2 separate regions of the Homo sapiens genome follow, and region 1 is linked to region 2. Evidence: fine-mapped expression QTL. A gene starts in region 2. The other region holds a variant in brackets. All regions are shown on one strand. Distances are from middle to middle. Region 1 overlaps PABPC1L (poly(A) binding protein cytoplasmic 1 like). Region 2 holds the start of PABPC1L (poly(A) binding protein cytoplasmic 1 like).

Region 1 (12,345 bases), 19 kb before region 2:
CCAGGTGTGGTGGCTCACACCTATAATCCTAGAACTTTGGAAGGCCAAAGTGGGAGGATCGCTTGAGGCCAGGAGTTTGAGATCAGCCTTGGCAACATAATGAGACCCCTGTCACTACAAAAAAATACACAAAATTAACCAGGCATGGTGTCACATGCCTGTACTTGGAGGCTGAGGTGGGAGGATCACTTGAGCCTAGGAGTTCAAGGCTGCAGTGAGCTATGATCACACCACTGCACTCTAACCTGGGTGCTGTCAAAAAAAAGACCCTGTCCAAAAAAAAAAATAGACATTTTTGCTGTTTAAAGACTGTTCTCATTCATTTTGCAGGAAATAGTTCAAAAGAGACACATTGAAATTCTACACAGGATATGATAATGCTGAATTTTAGGCCTTTTTTAGGGGAGGGAGATAAATACACAGTCTTTGATTACAGTAAGTATTTTCTGTTTTGAAGATTAAGTACATCCCTTCAATAATCAGCATATTCTTAGAATACCTTTCCTTGGTGTTCATCACAAATACTAAGGATATCCAAATTAATTTTGGTAATAACCGAAGCAAAACAAATTGTAAATAAAACGTAATGCTGGCCCTCTTTCCCCTTCTCGCAGTAAGGGTGATCTCTTATTGATTGTACACATTAATAAACGAAACTTTACAAGCCAAGAAAAGAAAAAAAGCCAAGGCCCAACACCTTAGCTAAGGTTCTGAGCCAGGCGGCCAGGAGCCCAGGCTAAGAGCAGGCAGCTGGGCTGGCCTTACCCGATAGGTGCTATGTGCTGCTGAGGAACATTTGCACGGCAGGAGCGGCCGGCCTGGTGTACAGCATCCTACCCCACTGGGTCCTGTGGTCTGAGTACCAATGTTGGCTGCAAAACAAAACAAAACAAAACAAAAAAAGCAGAGTTCAAATAGCTGCTATCCAAAAACAAAACAAAACAAAACAACACCAAAACAGAAAATAACAAGCGTTGACAAGAATGTAAAGAAATTAGAAGACTGTGCACTGTTGGTAGGAATGTAAAATGATGTAGCCACTACAGAAAAACAGTATAGGGCTTTCTCAAACAGTTAAACAGAATTACCATATCATCCATCAATTTTACCTCTGGGTATATACCCAAAAGAATTGAAAGCAGGGTTTCAAAGAGCTATTTGTACAAACATTTTCTTTCTTTTTTTTTTTTTTCCTGAGACAGAGTCTTGCTCTGTCACCCAGGCTATAGTGCAGTGGTGTTATCTCGGCTCACTGCAACCTCCCCCTCCTGGGTTCAATCAATTCTCTTGTCTCAGCCTACCAAGTAGCTGGGATTACAAGCACATGCCACCACGTCCGGCTAATTTTTGTATTTTTAGTAGAGACAGGGTTTCACCATGTTGGTCAGGCTGGTTTCGAACTCCTGACCTCATGATCCACCTGCCTCAGCCTCCCAAAGTGCTGGGATTACAGGCGTAAGCCATCACGCCCAGCCTGCACAACCATTTTCACAGCAGCATTATTCACAATACCCAAAGGGTAGAAAAGTGTCCATTGATAGATGAATGAATAAGTAAAAATGAGGTCTATACATACAATGGAATATTATTTAGCCTTAATAAGGAGATTCTGACACACGCCACAACATAGATACATCCTGAGACATGTAAAGTAAAAAAACTAGCCACAAAAAGACAAATACTCTATGATTCTACTTACATGAGGTACCAAGCAAGAACAGTCAAATTCACAGAGACAAAGTAGAATGGCAGTTGCCAAGGGCTAGCGGGAGGAGGAACGAGAAGTTATGGTTTGATGGGTACAGAATTTCGGCTCTACAAGCTGAACAGAGTTCTGGAGAGTGGATGGTGGTGACAGTGCACAACAGTGTGAATATACTTAATGCCATTGATCTGTACACTGAAAAATAGTTAAGTGGTAAATTTTGTTATGTGTATTTTACCACAATAAAAAGGAATAAGCAGGGGTGTCAGGGCCTGGCAGCAACCTAAGGCCAGAGACTGAGTATACCTCGTTCACGCAGAACCTCCAGTGCTGAGCTTGGGGCCCCAGCACACTGTGGATGTGAGAACATTTGCAGAATGAAAGAACAGATGTGCTTGCTGTACAGCCAAAACCTACACCCTTGTTTATAGTCACTGCAATACTTACCAGGCTTTAGGCCCAGTGCTAAGCCCTTTCATGCATGATCTCATTGATCCTCAACAACAAGCCGGGCATGGTGGCTCATGCCTGTAATCCCAGCACTTTGGGAGGCCGAGGCTGGTGGATCACCTAAGGTCAGGAGTTCGAGACCAGCCTGGCCAACATGGTGAAACCCTGTCCCTACTAAAAATACAAAAATTAGCCAAGTATGGTGGCGCATGCCTGTAATCCCAGCTACTCAGGAGGCTGAGGCAGGAGAATCGCTTAGAACCCCGGAGGCAGAGGTTGCAGTGAGCCGAGATCACACCATTACTCTCCAGCCTGGGCGACAGAGCAAGACTCGATCTCAAAAAAAAAAAAAAAAAAAATTAAGGCTGGGCACAGTGGCTCATGCCTGTAATCTCAGCACTTTGGGAGGCTGAGGTGGGCGGATCACCTGAGATCAGGAGTTCAAGACCAACCTGACCAACATGGAGAAACCCCGTCTCTACTAAAAACACAAAATTACCCAGGCATGGTGGCGCATGCCTACAATCCCAGCTACTTGGGAAGCTGAGGCAGGACAATCGCTTGAACCTGGGAGGCGGAGGTTGCAGTGAGCAGAGATCATGCCATTGCACTCCAGCCTGGGCAACAAGAATGAAATTCTGCCTCAAAAAGAAAAAAAAAAACATTTAAATTCTCTACAATAAAATGGGGGTACTATTTTTGTCCCCATTTTAAAGATTAGGTGACAGATATAGTAGTCAGCAAGGGCCTCATAGTCAGTTGGTCCCAGGAACTGGAGGCCAAGCTAACTACCACGCTACAGTCTCCAAAGTCAGCTTTGCTCACCGAGAGGGCATATGGCAAGGTCACCATGGAGGCTGGTCCTGACTCCTAGTGCCAACTTTGCCCCACCCCCATTCCCCTTGGCCCTACCCACACTCACCTACTCTCTGGGTATGAGGCACCGTGCGTGGCACCTGGGTGGAGGCCTGCCT[G/A]ACACTGCTGATGTGGGCCGGGGGGCGCCGAGGCACAACTGGTGGCCGGACCATTGAGGCACCTGGAGGGTAGGCAGCTTGTGGTGCAGACACCACAGAGAGAGAAAAGTTGGATGGAGTGGTGGGAATAATCAGGGTGGCACACTGTGCCTAGAAGCTTCCAGGGCCACCAAGAGAATGGGAAGGGAAACTACAACATTCACAACAGAAATAGGAGTCAATTCACTTAGACCCAGAACTCCAGAAAGGGGGAGTGTAGGAATCTACAATTTCAAAGCCAGCTCGTGTCTACCTAGAGCCCCAAACTGCATAAGCACCAGGATTGTACACCTTAGTCCCTCAAGATAGTTTCAAGTGAGCGTGCAATTCACTCTTACAGAGGAGGGCCTTTGGTCAACAATATAGCCAGAGGAATTTCACCTTCTCAGCTTTGCAAGAATTTTCAGAGTCACAAATCAGAGGCATCTTTGGTGATGACTGCTGGTGGCTAGCTGCGTGTCTTCCATTGGCTCACCACTGTGCTTGGTACTTTACACACGTCTCATTCAGGCCCATGCTCAGAAGAGGAAACTGAGGCTCAGAGAAGTGAAGTCACCCACCTTGGGAAGTGGCAGAGCCAGGTTTCATCCCTGTGTTATGACTGCCTCACGGGGCCCACACCAATAGGCCAGTCTGAGAGTGGAAGGGGCTGGGTCACTCACAGGAAGGTCTAGGTGGCTGGGATGTCCACCTGGGGGCAGGCTGGGTGGGTGTCACTGGGCCACAGCCATAGTATGCAGCCTGGGCTGGAGGCTGCATGGGAAAAGAAGACCCAGACTGAGGGGCTTGGCGGCAGGGTAGGTGAGAAGCTACACCTCCTCAGGGACACCATGGCAGGAACTCCACTGGCTCCTGCAGGGACTGGTGAGTCAAGACCCACAAGGCTGTAATGAAAGCTCCTTCCTCCCATCTCAGGATGTCCATTAGCCCTGAATCCTGCAGGGCAAAGATCTTAGATTTCAATCTTGGCTCCCTGTCAGCTAACCCAATGACCTGGATAAAAAGGGTGACATCTTACTCCAACTTGTGCAGCTTAAGCAACTGCTAAAAGGAGAGGAATGTTCTTACCGTGGTGGCCTTTAATGGGTGACATCTTTCTACTTCCTGTAAGTCCCACGAGGTCCTTTCCCAAACCATGCTCCTCAGAACATTAACATCCAGGGGAGATGTTAACAGGCATCCCACAAAAAAATGACCATCTAAGCTGGGGAAATGCTGGATAATCTGTGCCTGTTTTGGAGAGTCTCAGTAGACATTGGCATCTTAGGGTAGAATAGTGTAGATAGTAAAGAAATTTAGGGCCGATCATGGTGGCTCATGCCTGTAATCCCAGCACTTTAGGAGGTCAAGGAGGGCACATCACTTGAGGTCAGGAGTTCAAGACCAGCCTGGCCAACATGGTGAAACCCCGTCTCTACTAAAAATACAAAAAATTAGCTGAGTGTGGTGGCACGCACCTGTAATCCCAGCTACCCGGGAGGCTGAGGCACAAGAATCACTTGAACCCAGGAGGAAGAGTTTGCAGCGAGCCAAGATGGTGTCACTGCACTCCATTCTGGGCAACAGAGCAAGACTCTGTCTCCAAAAAAATAAAAATTTAATTTTTAAAAAAATGTAGGGCGGGGGACGGTGGCTTACTCCTGTAATGCCAGCACTTTGGGAGGCCAAGGCAGGAGAATTGCTTGAGCCCAGGAGTTTGAGACCAGCCTGGGCAACATGGCGAGACCCCTTCTTTAAAATAAACAAAAAAATTAGCTGGGCATGGTGGCACACACCTGTAGTCCCACCTACTCAGGAGGCTACAGTGGGAGGATCACTCAAGCCCAGGAATTCAAGGCTGCAGTGAGCCATGATCATGCCATTGCTCTCCAGCCTGGGTGACATGGAGACCCCGTGAAGGAAGGGAGGAAGGGAGGAAGGGAGGGAAGAAGGAAGGAGCCATGATCACGCCATTGCTCACCAGCCTGGGTGACATGGAGACCCCACGAAGGAAGGAAGGAAGGAAGGGAGGGAGGGAGGGAGGGAGGGAGGGAAGGGAAGGGAAGGGAAGGGAGGGAAGGGAGGGAAGGGAGGGAAGGGAAGGAAGGGAGGAAGGAAAAATGTAGGTCTTGCTTAACGCAGCATTTCCCAAACTTGCTGGATCATTAAGAGTCTTTTTCAGCACAACATTCACGAGCTTCTCTCACTGGGAAATGCCATTTGACTAACACTATCTCTCCCTTTTATAGAGAGGGAAACAAAGACTTCCTAATGAGTCCTCGGCAGAAGCAAGTTAGAAACCTCCATTTCCCTAGAACTCTAGTCTTCATGCTCTGCCTTGCTGGGGCAGGGGGGAAGGCTGCGGTGGGAGTTGCGGGCAGGCCGTCACCTGGGGCATGGCAGGCAGGAAGTAGCTGGAGGGCTGCTGAAAGGAGCCCAGGAGGGGGTTGCTCAGGGTCCGCATGGTGGAGAGGCGCTGCATGTACTGGTTGGTCAAGATGGCCTTCCGCTCCTCTTTGCGCTGGGCCAGTGCCACGTAGAGTGGCTTGGTGCCCACGATGCGCCCGTTCATCTCTGTCACGGCCTTTGTCGCCTCTTCTGGGGAGGAAAAACACACAAAGCCAAACCCCTTGCTGTGGCCACCCTCTGTCATCACCTAAAAGCAAGACAAGACAAGAGCTGCTGGGGTGGGGAAGGAAGGCTCCTGGGGCTGCGCTGCCTCCCTCCTCCCCATGGGCTAAGCCCAGCACTGGGCAGGCCCGCGAGAAAGCTGTGATGGAGGGATGTAGCGTGCACCCCTGTTTACTAAGCTGTGTTCGAGGGATGTAGTGTGCACCCCCGTTTAGCAAGCTGTGATGGAGGGATGTAGCGTGCACCCCCATTTACTGAGGAGTGATGGAGGGATGTAGCGTGCACCCTGTTTACTGAGCTGTTTGAGGGATGCAGCACGCACCCCCATCTATGAGGCCTGCTGCATGCCAGATACTTTACATGTCTTCACACCTCACATGTACAACCTCCCGATGCGGGAGGCATCGCGGCTCCCACTTTACAGCCGGGATAAGAGAGACTCGAAAGAGTGACTTGTCTGGGGTCACTCAGCCTGTGGTTCATACGTTAGCCAGGACTCAACCCAACACATTGTTCTGGTAAGCTTCTATCGCCTCTGCTAAGTACCAAGCCAAGTTCTTTAGGAATTTGGGGAAGAGGTTCTTAGCCTTTTTGTTAAAATAACCTTTTTACTTTGGAGTAACTTTAGATTTACAGAAAAAGTTACAAAAACAGTACAGAGGGTTGCTATATATCTTTTTTTTTTTTTTTGAGACATAGTTTCACTCTGTCACTCAGGCTAGAGTGGAGTGGCACGATCTCGGCTAACTGCAACCTCAGCCTCCCGGGTTCAAGCAATTCTCCTGCCTTAGCCTCCTGGGTAGATGGGACTACAGGCGTGTGCCACCACACCTGGCTAATTTTTGTATTTTCAGTAGAGAGAGGGTTTCACCATGTTGGCCAGGCTGGTCTCAAACTCCTGACCTCAAGTGATCTGCCTGCCTCAGCCTCCCAAAGTGCTGGGATTACAGGCGTGAGCCACCATGCCTGGCCTGCTGTATATCTTTCACCCAGTTTCCCCCAATGTGAACATGGTACATTTTTCAAAACTACAAAATTAACACTGGTGCAATGCTATTAACTATTTTATACCATTAGCTCCTATTAACTACAATGCTATTAACTGAACTCCAGACTTCACTGGAATTTCACTCTTTTTTCCCCTAATATTCTTTTTCTCTTCCAGGATCCAACCCACATGGCATTTAGGGTTTGTCTTTTTGTTTATTTGTTTGTTTTTTAAAGAGATGGGGTCTCACTCTGTCATCCAGGCTGGAGTGCAGTGGTATGATCATAGCTCACTGCAGCCTCAAACTCCCGGGCTCCAGGGATCCTCCTGCCTCAGCCTCTCAAGTAGTTAGGGCTATAGGTACATGCCACCACACCCAGCTAATTTTTTTTTTTAAGTTTGTAGAGATCAGCAATCACTATGTTGCCCAGGCTGGTCTCAAGAGATCCTCCTACCTAGGTCTCCCAAGGTGCAGGGATTACAGGCAGGAGCCACCACACCTGGCCCTGGGTTTTTAACCTTTTTTTAGGGTGAAGACACCGGCCTGGCTCATACAGCCCATAAGGACTAGAGTTATTTTTAAAATCTTCTTTTTTTCCTTTTTTTTTTTCTTTTTTTTTTTTTTTTTTTTTGAGTCAGGATCTCACTCTGTCACTCAGGCTGGAGTGCAGTGGTGCAATCTCAGCTCAACTGCACCCTCAACCTCTCAGCCTCAAGTGATCCTCTCAACTCAGTCTCCCAAGTAGCTGGGACTGCAGACAAGCACCACCATGCCTAATTTTGTTCATTTTTTGTAAAGATGAGGTCTCATCCTGTTGCCCCGGCTGGGCTTGAACTCCTGGTGAGCCCACGCTCTTAATCAGTAATTTTGAAACTGTACTCTGCTACCCTTCAGTAGAGGGGTCTTAACCTGAGAGTCCATGGATCCCCCTCAGGTAGGTCATGGATACAATTTAGGGGGAAATTGCATGGATTGGGGAAAAAGTGACATCTTTATTTTCATATTAGCATTTCCTTCTATTATGAATATGGGCAACAACAAAAAAATCCTGGCAGTATTAGCCATGAATTTGTCATGAAGAAAAAGAAAATATTTTCATATCACATTAATTATTGCTAATCTCAGCCGAGCGCAATGGCTTATGCCTGTAATCCCAGCACTTTGGGAGGCCAAGGTGGGCAGATCACCTGAGGTCAGGAGTTCGAGACCAGCCTGGCCAACATGGTGAAACCCCATCTCTACTAAAAATATACAAAAATTAGCTGGTTATGGTGGCGGGTGCCTGTAATCTCAGCTTCCCAGGAGGTTGAGGCAGAACCCAGGTTCTTGAACCTGGGAGGCAGAGGTTGTAGTGAGCCAAGATCATGCCACTGCGCTCCAGTCTGGGCGACAGAGTGGGACTTCGTCTCAAAAAAATAAAAATAAAAATAATAAAAGAAGCACATACTGCTTTCACTTTAGTATTTTGACCATTATATTTTTTCAGTATGATTTTTTTGTACACCTAAGAATCTTATTTTATGCATTTAAAAATATTCTTAGGGCCAGGTTTGGTGGCTCATGCCTATTTTTGGGAAGCAGAGGCGGAAGAATTGCTTGAGCCCAGGGGTTTGAGACCAGCCTGGGTAATATAAAAAATAATTATCCAGGCATAGTGGTGCTCCTATAGTCTCAGCTACTTGGGAGGCTGAGACAGGAGATCACTTGAGGCCAGGAGTTGGAGGCTGCAGTGAGCTGTGATGGCACCACTGCATTCCAGCCTGGGTGATAGAGCGAGACTCTGTCTCAAAAAAGTTTTTAAAAAATATTCTTAGAAGGGTTCCACAGGCTTCATCAGATAGCCAAAGGGCCGGGCACAGTGGCTCACGCCTGTAATCCTAGCACTTTGGGAGGCTGAGGCAGGTGGATCACCTGAGGTCAGAAGTTCGAGACCAGCCTGGCCAAAATAGTGACACCCCATCTCTACTAAAAATACAAAAAATTAGCTGGGCATGGTGAGAGGCGCCTGTAATCCCAGCTACTCAGGAGGCTGAAGCAGGAGAATCACTTGAACCCAGGAGGCAAAGGTTACAGTGAGCTAAGATTGCACCATTGCACTCTAGCCTGGGCAACAAGAGCAAAACTCCATCTCAAAAAAAAAAAAATATATATATATTGTTAAGAACTTCTGGCAGTCGGTAGTTAATAATGATAAAATTTAGCAAAGCTAACACTTATGCAGAGCTTACCATGAACTTGATAGTGGTATAAGTATTTATATCCATTAATTCCTTTAATTTTCATAATTATTTTTATATAAAACAAAATACAGGCCAGATGCAGTGGCTCATGCCTATAATCCCAGCACTTTGGGAGGCTGAGGTAGGAGGACTGCTTGAGCCCAGGAGTTCAAGACAAGCCTGGACAACACAGCAAGACTCCCAATTTCTACCAAAAAAAAATTTTTTTTTAAATCAGCTGGGCATGGTGGCACATGCCTGTGGTCCCAGCTACTTAGGAGGCTCAGGTGGGAGGATCACTTGAGCCCAGGAGGTTGAGGTTGTGGCGTGCCATGATCACATCATGGCCCTCCAGCCTGGGCAACAGAATAAGAACCTGCATCTAATAAAAAATAATAATAAACCAAAATATATAAAATCGCATAACATAGGCCAGGCACAGTGGTTCACGCCTATAATCTCAGCACTTTGGGAGGCCAAGGCGGGCAGATCACCTGAGGTCAAGAGTTCAGGACCATCCTGGCTAACATGGTGAAACCTCATCTTTACTAAAAATACAAACATTAGTAGGGCTTGGTGGCGGGCGCCTGTAATCCCAGCTACTCAGAAGGCTGAGGCAGGAGAATTGCTTGAACCTGGGAGGCAGAAGTTGTAGTGAGCCAAGATCGCGCCATTGCACTCCAGCCTGGGCGACAAGAAGGAAACTCTATCTCAAAATAAATAAATAATTGTATAATATATATATATATGTAGGCTGGGCGTGGTGGCTCATTCTTGTAATTGCAGCACTTTGGGAGGCTGAGGCGGGCGGATTACTAGGTCAGGAGTTTGAGACCAGCCCGGCCAACACAGTGAAACCCCGTCTCTACTAAAAATACAAAAATTAGCTGGGCATGGTGGCAGGTGCCTGTAATCCCAGCTACTCAGGAGGCTGAGGGAGAAGAATCACTTGAACCCGGGAGGCGGAGGTTGTAGTGAGCCGAGATGGCGCCACTGCACTCTAGCCTGGGCAACAGAGCTAGACTCCATCACACACACAAAAAATAGATATATTTATAATCCCCATTTTATACCGTTTGTCCTGTTAAAAAGATGGTCACCCCAGGTGTGCCTTAACTCTAAGCAATCCAAATTTACACATTTCCTTTGTTCGGGGAGTCCTCAAGAAGGTCCATCTCCTGAAGCTGTATGCAAGGTGTATGATGAATCATTACGACAATCACTATTTCACTACTTATTGAATGCAGATGCTGTACATGCAGCCTCTTTAGTAGTTCTTAGGACACCTGGAGAGGTGAGAAATGTTGCTCCCACTTTATAGGTGAGTAAACAAGGTCCGAAAAGCAAAGCCACTTGCCTCAGTTTCTACAGCTAGGTAATGGTAGGACTGGGGTTTACATTTAAACCTGATTAACTTTAAAATTCCAGCTTTCAACCATGTTTCTACATCAAATGTATATGCATTTGCTTGGAAAGAGGACCTATAGCTTTTTATGATGTGTAATCAAATTTACTGATGCCTAATTTACATGTGCCACAGCCTTCTCTCGCATTTTTCAAAAGGATCTTAACCTAAAAGACAACCTTTTTTCCTCCAAACACAAGGCTCCCTGAAGGATGTTTACAACTGGACTCAGTAGCCAAAAGAGAACTTCTAGACCACTTCCTCAGAACCCAACATCACATCATTCAGGCGGGTCCCCCCATCCTGTCACTCACACTGATCTCTTTGGAAAATTCCTCATTCCCACTCCAGCTCCCTACCTCCTCACAGCCAAGTCAAACACTGCTGCTACTGCCACTTCTTCCAGGCAGCCTTCCCTTCTGTTCCACTGAACTCCTGTAGCTTTGCCTCCCATACTGTCCCCCATCTTATAATCCATTTGAGTTAGTGACGGGCTGACTTCCTCACTAGACTATAAGCTACTTGAAAGCAAGGATCACATCTGATTTGCTCCTGTTTCCCACAGAGCCTGGTAAAACAGCAGGTATTTAAGTATAGAATGAAGAAACACTGGATCATCATCTTAAAAACCATCTGGGCGCTTTTTTTTTTTTTTTTTTTTGAGACAGAGTCTCGCTGTTGCCCAGGCTGGAGTGCAGTGGCACGATCTTGGCTCACTGCAAGCTCCGCCTCCTGGGTTCATGCCATTCTCCTGCCTCAGCCTCCGGAATACCTGGGACTATAGGCACGTGCCATCATGCCCGGCTAATTTTTTGTATTTTTAGTAGAGATGGGGTTTCACCGTGTTAGCGAGGATGGTCTCGATCTCCTGACCTCATGATCTGCCTGCCTCAGCCTCCCAAAGTGCTGGGATTACAGGCGTGAGCCATATTGCCCAGCCTCTGGGAGCTTTAAAAAAAAAAAATAAAAAGCCCAGGCCCTACCCCGGGGATCCACATTCTATGCCTGACTGAGGTGTGTGTATTTAAGAATTGCCCAGGGGGTTGTAATGAGAAGCCAGGGTCGGAAAGCCATCCAGTGAGCCCAGTGTCCTTATCTATAAGACAACATCTGCTAAAGCTCATAGAGCTGCTGATGGGCCAGTTGCCACATCTCAGGGGCCTAACAGGGTTGGGCACACAATTGGTGCTCCAGAAATAGGGAAGAACAAATGAAGAATGACGAAGTCCAGCCCTCTCACTTTCCAGATGGGAAAACGGAGGCCCAGGAGGGTAATGTCACTGGCAGAGGCCAGACAACAAAAGTCAATGGAAATACTAAGATATGAATTTCTGGAATCTGGCATACAGTAGGCACTCAATAAATGCCAAGGTGACAGTGAGCCCCAAGTCCAGCTGTGTGACTGGGACTATATTTCTACCCTCTTCCCCTCCAGCCCAGACAAGGCTGCAGATGGCTACAAGCTCCAACGGGGTCAGCAGAGCCCCAGAAGGGGTAGCCGGCACCAACCCCCTGAAGGCTGCTGGGCGAGAGGGTGGAGGGGTGGGGTTGTGGGGGGATGGTGGTGAGAGGATGGAGGGGAACGCTGTCCCCCGGAGGTGCCCCCAGTCCTCACCTTCGCACTGGTAATTACTCCATAGGGAGAGAACTCTTTCCTCAGTTTGTCGTCATCAATGGAGTCGTCCAGATTCTTCACATACAAGTTCACACCCTGGGATGGAAGGGAAACTGCTGGATGTCCCCTTCTCCTCCAAGCCCCAACTGCCTTGGGGAGATCAGGGAACTGACGCAGGTACAAGGGGCATGGGGAGCCCCACCAGCCCAGCCTCCTGCTCCCCGTCTCCCTCAGCACCCAGGTACCCCCATCCCTCAGCGTGCCCATCACATGCAAGCTGTAGCCCCCACATCCCAAATTCCCCTGCAGTTCTCACACATCTGCACTGGTCCCAGCCTC
Region 2 (8,600 bases):
ATCCACAGAACTATATCAACTTGGCATTTGAGGCTCCCCAGTGGGTGTTGCACAACAGATCTTGCTTCCAAACCCATGCCTTGCACATACCCCTCCACCTCTCATCCTGAAACAGGGGCCTTCCACTTTCAACTCAAGCCTCAGCTTGGATTTAACCACGTTGACTGGGTCCCCACTGTGGGTCAAGAACCTGCTAAGGGCATTACATACTTCCCTTGTTATCTATGCCAGTCATAAGAGAATCCTTTCAGTCATTTCTTAACCTCTGAGCCCCAGAGGGAAAATGAGAATAAATGACTTGTCCAAGGTCAGCCAACAGAAGTAATTCTTTGATTGTTACAGTTATCACTTAGAAGCTTAACAGTATGCCAGGTACCCTTTTAAGGAGTATACATGTATGCAGAAAACCTAACACACAGAAAGTACATGATAAATCTGCCATTATTATTGTGAAGAACTTAATACACAGTTAAGAGTCTTTCTTCCTTTGATCCTCAAAGACAGGAAACAGCCCCGTCTCTCTGTCACAGATAACCCTTAGTGCATTACTACATCTCCTCAAGTCTACCTGCTCCTCTGAGCCACAGGGATAGCCTCTTATTGACTGGGAATTTGAGAGCCCTCGTTGAGAACTTAAGGATTATGCTTGGCACACAGTAGCACTTGATAAAAGTTCTGACATGCCAGGTGCAGTGGCTCACGCCTGTAATCCCAGCACTTTGGGAGACTGAGGCGGGCGGATCACAAGGTCAGGAGATCGAGACCATCCTGGCTAACACGGTGAAACCCCGTCTCTACTAAAAATACAAAAAAAATTAGCTGGGCGTGGTGGCGGGCACCTGTAGTCCCAGCTACTCAGGAGGCTGAGGCAGGAGAATGGCGTGAACCTGGGAGGAGGAGGTTGCAGTGAGCTGAGATCGCGCCACTGCACTCCAGCCTGGGCAACAGAGTGAGACTCCGTCTCAAAAAAAAAAAAAAAAAAAAGTTCTGACACATAGGCTACAAAAACTGTCCCCATCCTCCCTAGAATAGCAGACACTCCAAAGGCTACGGGGTAACTGATCAACTATCCTTATAAAATCTAGAGACAGAACACCCAGGTTTAAGCCCTCTGTTCCAGACATACTGACCTGCTATATGGCCGCTGATCCTCAACATCCTCATATAAAAAGTCAGAGAAATAATCAGAATCCTTCTCAAATGACATACCTCCACTGGCTCAACATATATTTATTGAGCACCTAATATGTTTCACATCTTATTCTAAGTATTGGGATACAATAATGACTAAGAACAAGATCACTGATGGAACTTACATCTAATGTAAGACAATCTTAAAAACAAGATTCAATAACTTAATTGCCTTGATGGCCCCAATTAATGGCCTTCCTGTAGCCACACCCTTCATCCTATAATTTCTACTCCCCTCTCACTCTGAATGTGGGCTGGTCTTGTGACTTGCTTTGGTCAATAGAATGTAGTGAAAGAGGCCAGGTGCGGTGGCTCATGGCTGTAATCCCAGCATTTTGGGAGGTCAGGAGTTCGAGACCAGCCTGGCCAACACAGTGAAACCCACCCTGTCTCCACTAAACATACAAAAATTATCCAGGCATGGTGGCTCGCACCTGTAATTCCAGCTACTCGGGAGGCTGAGGCAGGAGAATCGTTTGAACTCAGGAGGCTTGAACCCAGGAAGTTGCAGTAAGCTGAGATCATGCCACTGTACTCCAGCCTAGGCAACAGAGTAAGACTGCATCTCAATTAAAAAAAAAAAACGTAGTGGAAGTGATGGTTCCAGTTCTGCATTTAGTTCTCAAGAGGCCTGGTGTGCTTCCACTCTTGTCTTCTGAGCCCCTGCCATTGCCATGAGAATACCATGAGAATAGCCTGGACTAGCCTACTGGAGGACAAAAGGCCATAGGGAGGAAAGCCAAGATGTTCCAGCTGACAGCCAGTCGCTCCCTCATATACCCAGCGAGAGCTCCCACTCAGCTTTCAGTGGGCATAGGAGGGAACCCAGCCAAGACCAGAAGAACTGCCCAGCTGAACTTTGCCCATTGCCAACTGTGGAATTATTAGCTAAATAAATGATTGTTGTTGACGGCCACTAAATTTGAAGGTGGTTACACAGCGAGAGCTGACTGATACACAGGTAATGTCTGGTCATTCACGGAAGATGAAACTGAAAGAACGGCTGTCATTCAGGTGCTTGCTGTACCTGAAACTTGACTGAAAGGACCTTGTAAACTGTAAAGTGAGGTGTTGCTTGTCACCCCTCTACCAGGCAGGTAGTTGACACCGATCTACCCAAAGACGTACACCCTTCATCCTCTACCTTGCAAGAGAGGATGTTCCCAAAGGTGGAGAAGGTATCATATAAAGCCTTGTTGTCAATGGAGTCCTCCAGGTTCTTGATGAAGATGTTGCCCACACCTGACTTGCGAAGTCCTGGGTCTCGCTGGGACCACATGATGCGAATAGGCTGGCCTTTGAGCATCTCAAAGTTCATTGTGTCCAGTGCCCGCTCCGCTGGACAGAAGGAAGAGGAGAGAAATTAGCAAGTTTAGGGAATTTTCTTACCTTGATCACCCACCCCTCGAGGTGCTTAACTGGGAGCCAATAAAGAGAAAGTCATTGTCTGGGTCCCAGACAATAAGCCAAGATAAGAGCCCAAATAACTGAGATAAGAGCCCAAAGGCTCAGGAAGGATAAGCTGAGAATTAGTGTGTATGGTGCTCCCCCAACCTTCCAGTTATGATCTCATTCAACCAACTCCCTGCAGCCACATGAGCATGGATTCCTGCCCCTCATTTTACAGATGGGAAAACTGAGAATAAGAAACATGAAAGGTCTGTGGCAGCGTCAGGTCTATTCTGGATTCTAAAGTACACTGAGTGGATAACAATGTCCATATGACAAGGGGTGGCAGCACTTTGAGGAAATTAAAACTCAGAGGTGCTGCAGGGCAGAGCTGAGGTTAGATCTCAAGCAGTCCGGCTCTGGGGAAAGTGGACATTACCTCTCTGAGCCTGTTCCTCACCTGTAAAGGGGGAATGATGGTAATATTACCTACTTTTCCACACCTAACAAAGGGAGATACTACCAACTACCAGGTTGTTGGAGGGACTGAAAAATAAAGAAGGTATGTAAAAGTGCCTTGTTTGTAACTTTGTGCCTGACACAAAATAATGTCTCAAAACAGCAGCCGATGCCCAGCCTCCGGCCACTGCTGCAGCCTGTGTCTCTCCTGGGTGATACACGTGACCTGTTTCAGGGAGTCTGCTAGTGCAGAGACATGGAAGGGGGCTGTGGGGAACACAGTGGAGCAAGTTTCAGGAAGCCCGGATTCTCCACCTAGTCTTATCATAAATACCTGGGGCAAAACCCTTCTCTCTGCAGCACGGTTTCCAGGCCGAGTCCCACTTCATTCACAGGGCTTGGAGGAAGATGGGAAGAGGCAGGAGGTGGAGCAAAGCAGAACAAACAGAAAAGTGCCCAGGAATCCAGCCCAGTAAGGGGCGGGGAACAGGCCCGGCGGAACAACCCCTTCCCTAGCAAACCACCCACTCAGGCAACCACCAGGTTCACCCAGGCGACCTGGCGCAAGGGATCCCTCTAGTGGACGCCGGCCATTTTTTGGGTGAGTTTCTGGAGTCTTACATCAGAATGTTAAAGCCACTATTTTCGTTGTTGTTTCTTTTTTGTTTGTTGTTTTGTTTTGTGTTGAGATGGAGTCTCGCTCTGTTGCCCGGGCTGGAGTGCAATGGCGCAGTCTCGGCTCACTGCAACCTCTGCCTCCCGGATTCAAGCGATTCTCGTGCCTCAGCCTCCCCAGCAGTTGGGATTACAGGCGTCCGCCATCATGCCCAGCTATTTTTTGTATTTTTAGTAGAGAAAGGGTTTCGCTATGTTGGCCAGGCTGGTCTCGAACTCCTGACCTCAAGTGATCTGCCCACCTCGGCCTCCTAAGATGCTGGGATTACAGGCGTGAGCCACTGCGCCTGGCCTTATTTATTTATTTATTTATTTATTTATTTATTTATTTATTTATTTTAGGTTACCACTTAAGAGCGTTTACGAGGTAACAAGCAGTTACCATTCTTTATGCATAGACAGCAGTTCTCCATTCTTTATGTTATTGGAGAATACGCCTTAGCCCCATTTTGCAGATGAAAAGGTGCAGAGCGTGAAGGCTTGCCCAAGCTCACTCATCCTCTCCACTCTCAACAGAAGTGCAGGCAAACTCATCGGACAAGCTCTAATCAATGCTATCAGCTCTGAGAAAGCGGCCTTGCGGCCTGGAGGCAGCGGTTTTTCAGAGCCCGTGCAGGTAGAGGCGCCCAGTGTGGATCTCACGTCGCGCTGGGAAAGGCCTGAGCCCAAGGCTGGGTTCTCCTGCCTCCCCTGCTCACCAGCTGTGTTGCCTTGGGCATCTTCCTCACCAGGTGCTTTGAATCTCTCATCCTCACAAGCACTCTATAAGGCAGCTAGGACCCCCATTTTCCAGACACGCATCTGAAGCTCAGAATGGTCGAGTAACTTGCCCAGAGTCACACGGCTGCTGGGCTTCTATCCCTGGTCCGCCTGACCCCCACCCCCACCCCCACAAAGCCTGTATCTGTTTTCACTCGACCCTAATCTCTCTCCTCTGTAGAGGAATAGCAGTAAACCACACTAATTACCAATTCCCGTCTCAGGGGCCAGGCCTCTGCCAACGCCCTGTTATCTTTGAGCCTCAGTTTCCCCGGCTGCAAAGTGTAAGATGAAAGCGCAAGCGGCCCAGTTCCGGCTTCTGTCTGTCCGCCTGCTTGTCCGTCGGTCCTTCCCCTCCCGCCCCATCCCCGGGGCTCACCGTCCGCGGGCTGCTGGAAGTTGATGTAGGCGTAGCCCAGCGAGCGCCGGGTGGCTACATCGCGGCACACGCGGATGGACAGGATGGGGCCGGCGGGAGAGAACTTCTCATAGAGCATGGCCTCGGTCACGTCGGGGTGCAGATCGCCCACGTAAAGCGAGGCAAGCGGGTAGCCAGAACCGCTGGCGTTCATGGTGGGCAGGGGGCCGGGGCTGCGGGGCAAGCAGGAGCCGGGTCACCCAGCAGCCCCGCGCTCACCCGGGCGGAAGCCCTCCTTCCTGGGCGCGGGCCCGCCCCTTCCCTTTACCGCCCCCGCGTCCCTGCGCACCAATCGTGGGCGCGCTCGGACGCCCCTCCCCCGGGATCCCTCCTGGGCCCACCCCCCACCTGCGAGCACTTGGGGATCTAAAAGCTACAGGTGGGGACACCTCTGACCCCGCCCTGGGAGGCGGAAAAAGCCTTCAACCTGGCCTTGAGCAGGGCTGCTGGGACTTGAGTGGAGCTCTCAAAACCCCCAGCTCTTTTGAAAGAGCCGAGGACTGGGACGGAAAGGACGCAGGGGACTGAGTTCTAACCCCGGAACAGATGATCATCTTTCTGAACCCGTTTCCCTTCTCTGTAAAATGGGAATGATTCCCTCCTGACAAGAATGAAAGGAGACCCAAACCGCGCTTTTTGCGTTTCACACACAAACGGAATTCCGAACAGGCCACTGTTTCAAAGCTTGTGTAGAGAATTTTACCCTGCTCCATTGAAGATGTCTTCCTCCAGAGAGCCTGATCCAGTCCCACCGTTTCGCACCAAGGATGGAAATGGCTTTGAGACATGAGAACTGGAGACCACTAAGGCCTTTCTTGGTACTGGCTCATATTACCAAGACCCCTTTTCCTGGGATATTCCCTGTCCCTCTGCTAAGCCATTACACATCCATTACACCAGGGAGGTTCACTGAGTTACTTGTGGCTCAGCCTAAATGCGGACAATTGGGAACTAATAGCAGAGCAAGACCTAAACAGAGCAAGACTGTGAATCTGAGCTTGCAGCGTCAATCTGTGGTATAGGGACATTAAAAACAACACAAAAACAAAACAACTACTCCACTGAGCACCAATACTTCACTTTTCCTCTGATAGGACTTTCCTGGTCTCACTGATCCAACAGAGCAGGTAGGCCCCCACTGACTTTTGGTTGAGTGTGGCTTCAACAGGTGGAACAGCTCCTAAACTAGGGACAGAAGGTGCCCATCTGGCTGTCCAGCCTCAGAGTAGCAAGGAAGCACTAATTCTAATCTTGGGCTAAAAAAGACCCCTCTATCCTGATATTTTTCTCTCCTTGTGGTAATGTGGATGTTTTCAGAAGGGGCAAATCCTGTGAGGAACCAGCTCTGCAGGCCACCATACAGTGTGAGGACAGGTGAGACGCCAGCTTGGTGATGACCAAGACTTATGCAACCATAGGTTACCTATTTCACTGGCTTGGTTGTATCTCAGAGTTAAAAAATGGGGAAGGGATGGTGGGCTCGAATACAATGCAAAATAACTGTCCATACCAAATCTTAGAAGTCACTAAAGAGGACCTAATACCTGCATGGTTTGTTGTGGAAGGTAGAGAGGTATCAAGTAACGGGTGTAAAGAGGCTGTTTAATTAATGGTAATTTCTTCCCCTGGATAACACCTTGACTTCTGGTCCTAAATAATGAAATAAAACTGTTTGCCTATTTTTAAAGAAAACAGAGTTAAAAATAAGTGTGATCAGAATAGTTAGCTAGGTCTGGTAACAACAGAGATGGTGGTGACACATCAATTCACAGGCAACTAACTGATAAAATTTTTATTTCACTTTTGAATTTTTACACTTTTCCTGATTATTCTGTGTAAGGTGAAACTAGAACTGTTTAAAAGACATACACAAATCTAGTACATCAATAACCGGGGATTTTTCTTTTTTGCTATACTATTTTCACAACCACGGGTGTGCTTGCTAGGCAATATAACCATCACAGAAGCAAACGTTAGGCAGAATACTGGTAAGAAAAAACAAAGCAAGAAAAGAGCTACCAGATATACAGACAGGCTTGGTTCCACATTCACTACTGCATTTTCAAGCGCCAAGTATTAACTGCACATTTTTGTTCAGCTAGAAAGGAGGGATTTTTTTTTTTGTTTTTTTCTTTTTTTTTGGTTTGTTTTAAATCAGTGCATAAATTTTTCTTTTCTCATTTCAGCAGATGGACAAACAGATGGACTCTACAGCTAAGTGGAATATCAAAGGTAGAGGGGTGATTCTGTGAGACTGATAGGCCTGACTATTCTCAATTCTCCCCACTGCAGTGTTCACGCAACTTCCCTGAATATAGGGTCTCCTTAAACACATCTGAGCACTGACCTGGATGAGTGCACTTGGGAGACCTGGTGACAGGCACAAAAAGCATGATCAGGGCTAGCCTCAATACAGGGAGAAATCATGGATATTTAAAAATACTTTTTTGATTCAGATTCCGGTATGACTGAAGAGCAACACCGTGTTGAGAACTGGAGGAAGACAGGGTTCTGGTGCCAGAAGCTCTTCTCCAATCTTTAAAGCCAGGCTTGCTCACCAAGGTGCTCAGTAATGTCTCTCACCCCTGCCCATATATAGCATTAAAAAGTGAACAAAAGACAGATAAAGATAGAATTCAAAAAGGAAAAAAAGTAAGGAAGCAGAGGGACAGAAACTTAGAAGAGAAAACCAAGGTCAACAGTCAAAAAGGATGGTGGGAAAGAATGTTTAGATTTCAAAATTTAAAAGCCCCGAGCTAGGAAGAACCTGAAAACTGAGTACTCCTCAAGTGAAAGGCCATCTCTACAGAACATCATTCCTTTTTTTGTTTTTTGTTTTCTTTTTTGGAGATGAGGTCTCGCTATGTTGCCCAGGCTGGAGTGCAGTTATTCACAGGTGCAACCACAGGGCACTGCAGCTTTAAACTCCTGGGCTCAAGCGATCCTCCTGCCTCAGCCTCCCAAATAGTTGGGACTAGATGCACGCACCACCACGCCTGACTCAGGACATTATTCTTAAAGGTATTATCCAGGAAACAGATAAGGTCATTCATAAAACACACGGCTTTTTTTCTTTAGCTCAGTGTTAACAATGAAAGTAGATTCCACTATTGAAGCACAAGTTGCAAATTGGTAACATAGTGAACATATTGCTGTAGGAAAGGGGGTTCAGTGTGGTGTGTTATATGAGCACTTGAACTTTTCAAGGTGTCATAAGCCAGTTATCTGCCACAAAGAATTTCCATTTCAGGATTCGAGTTTCCTCAGAGGAAGACACTGTGGACATTTGTGGTCATGAACTTTTAAGTGGCAACAGCCCAAACAGGTCAAGTGTCTTTAAGTCCCGAACAACGGCAGCATTACTGTGAATTACCATTCAACTCAAATGCCAAATGATGTGTGTCTCACTCCAAGTTCCAGCATCACAATATAATCTCTATAACTTTCTGTACAACTTTACAATGGAATTGTATTTCAATGATTATTTTGATATCAGATTAAACCTTCCAAAAAGTTACACATAATTCAGGTCTATTTTTTCTACCAGTAAGAGTTCTGCTAAATTACAAAACCCCATAATCACAGTGTTCAGTTTTTAAAAAATTAAACACACAGTAATCCTGTCAATGTTAATCAAAATCAAAACTTCGGAATGCCGTGGCATTTATGTGACCAATCTGAGTTTTAGATACAAATACCAGCTGTTTAT

The links. PIP is the estimated chance that this variant, and not a neighbour inherited with it, causes the effect.
Region 1: its variant is fine-mapped to the expression of PABPC1L in whole blood (TOPMed, PIP above 0.99).

Annotation. Positions count from the first base shown.
Region 1 is chr20:44,923,918-44,936,262 of GRCh38, reverse strand. PABPC1L (poly(A) binding protein cytoplasmic 1 like) reads right to left here. Exons shown (of 15, transcript NM_001372179.1): 7 at 12,007-12,102; 8 at 5,537-5,803; 9 at 3,831-3,921; 10 at 3,078-3,206; 11 at 766-872. Among named protein-coding and RNA genes, the nearest start is that of PABPC1L, 20 kb to the right of the region's middle. The variant G/A (reference allele first, on the strand shown) is at 3,130.
Region 2 is chr20:44,906,589-44,915,188 of GRCh38, reverse strand. PABPC1L (poly(A) binding protein cytoplasmic 1 like) reads right to left here and starts at 5,129. Exons shown (of 15, transcript NM_001372179.1): 1 at 4,853-5,129; 2 at 2,336-2,529. The coding sequence starts at 5,045. It overlaps YWHAB (tyrosine 3-monooxygenase/tryptophan 5-monooxygenase activation protein beta), which reads right to left. Exons shown (of 6, transcript NM_139323.4): 6 at 6,657-8,600. RefSeq lists a silencer at 4,946-5,275.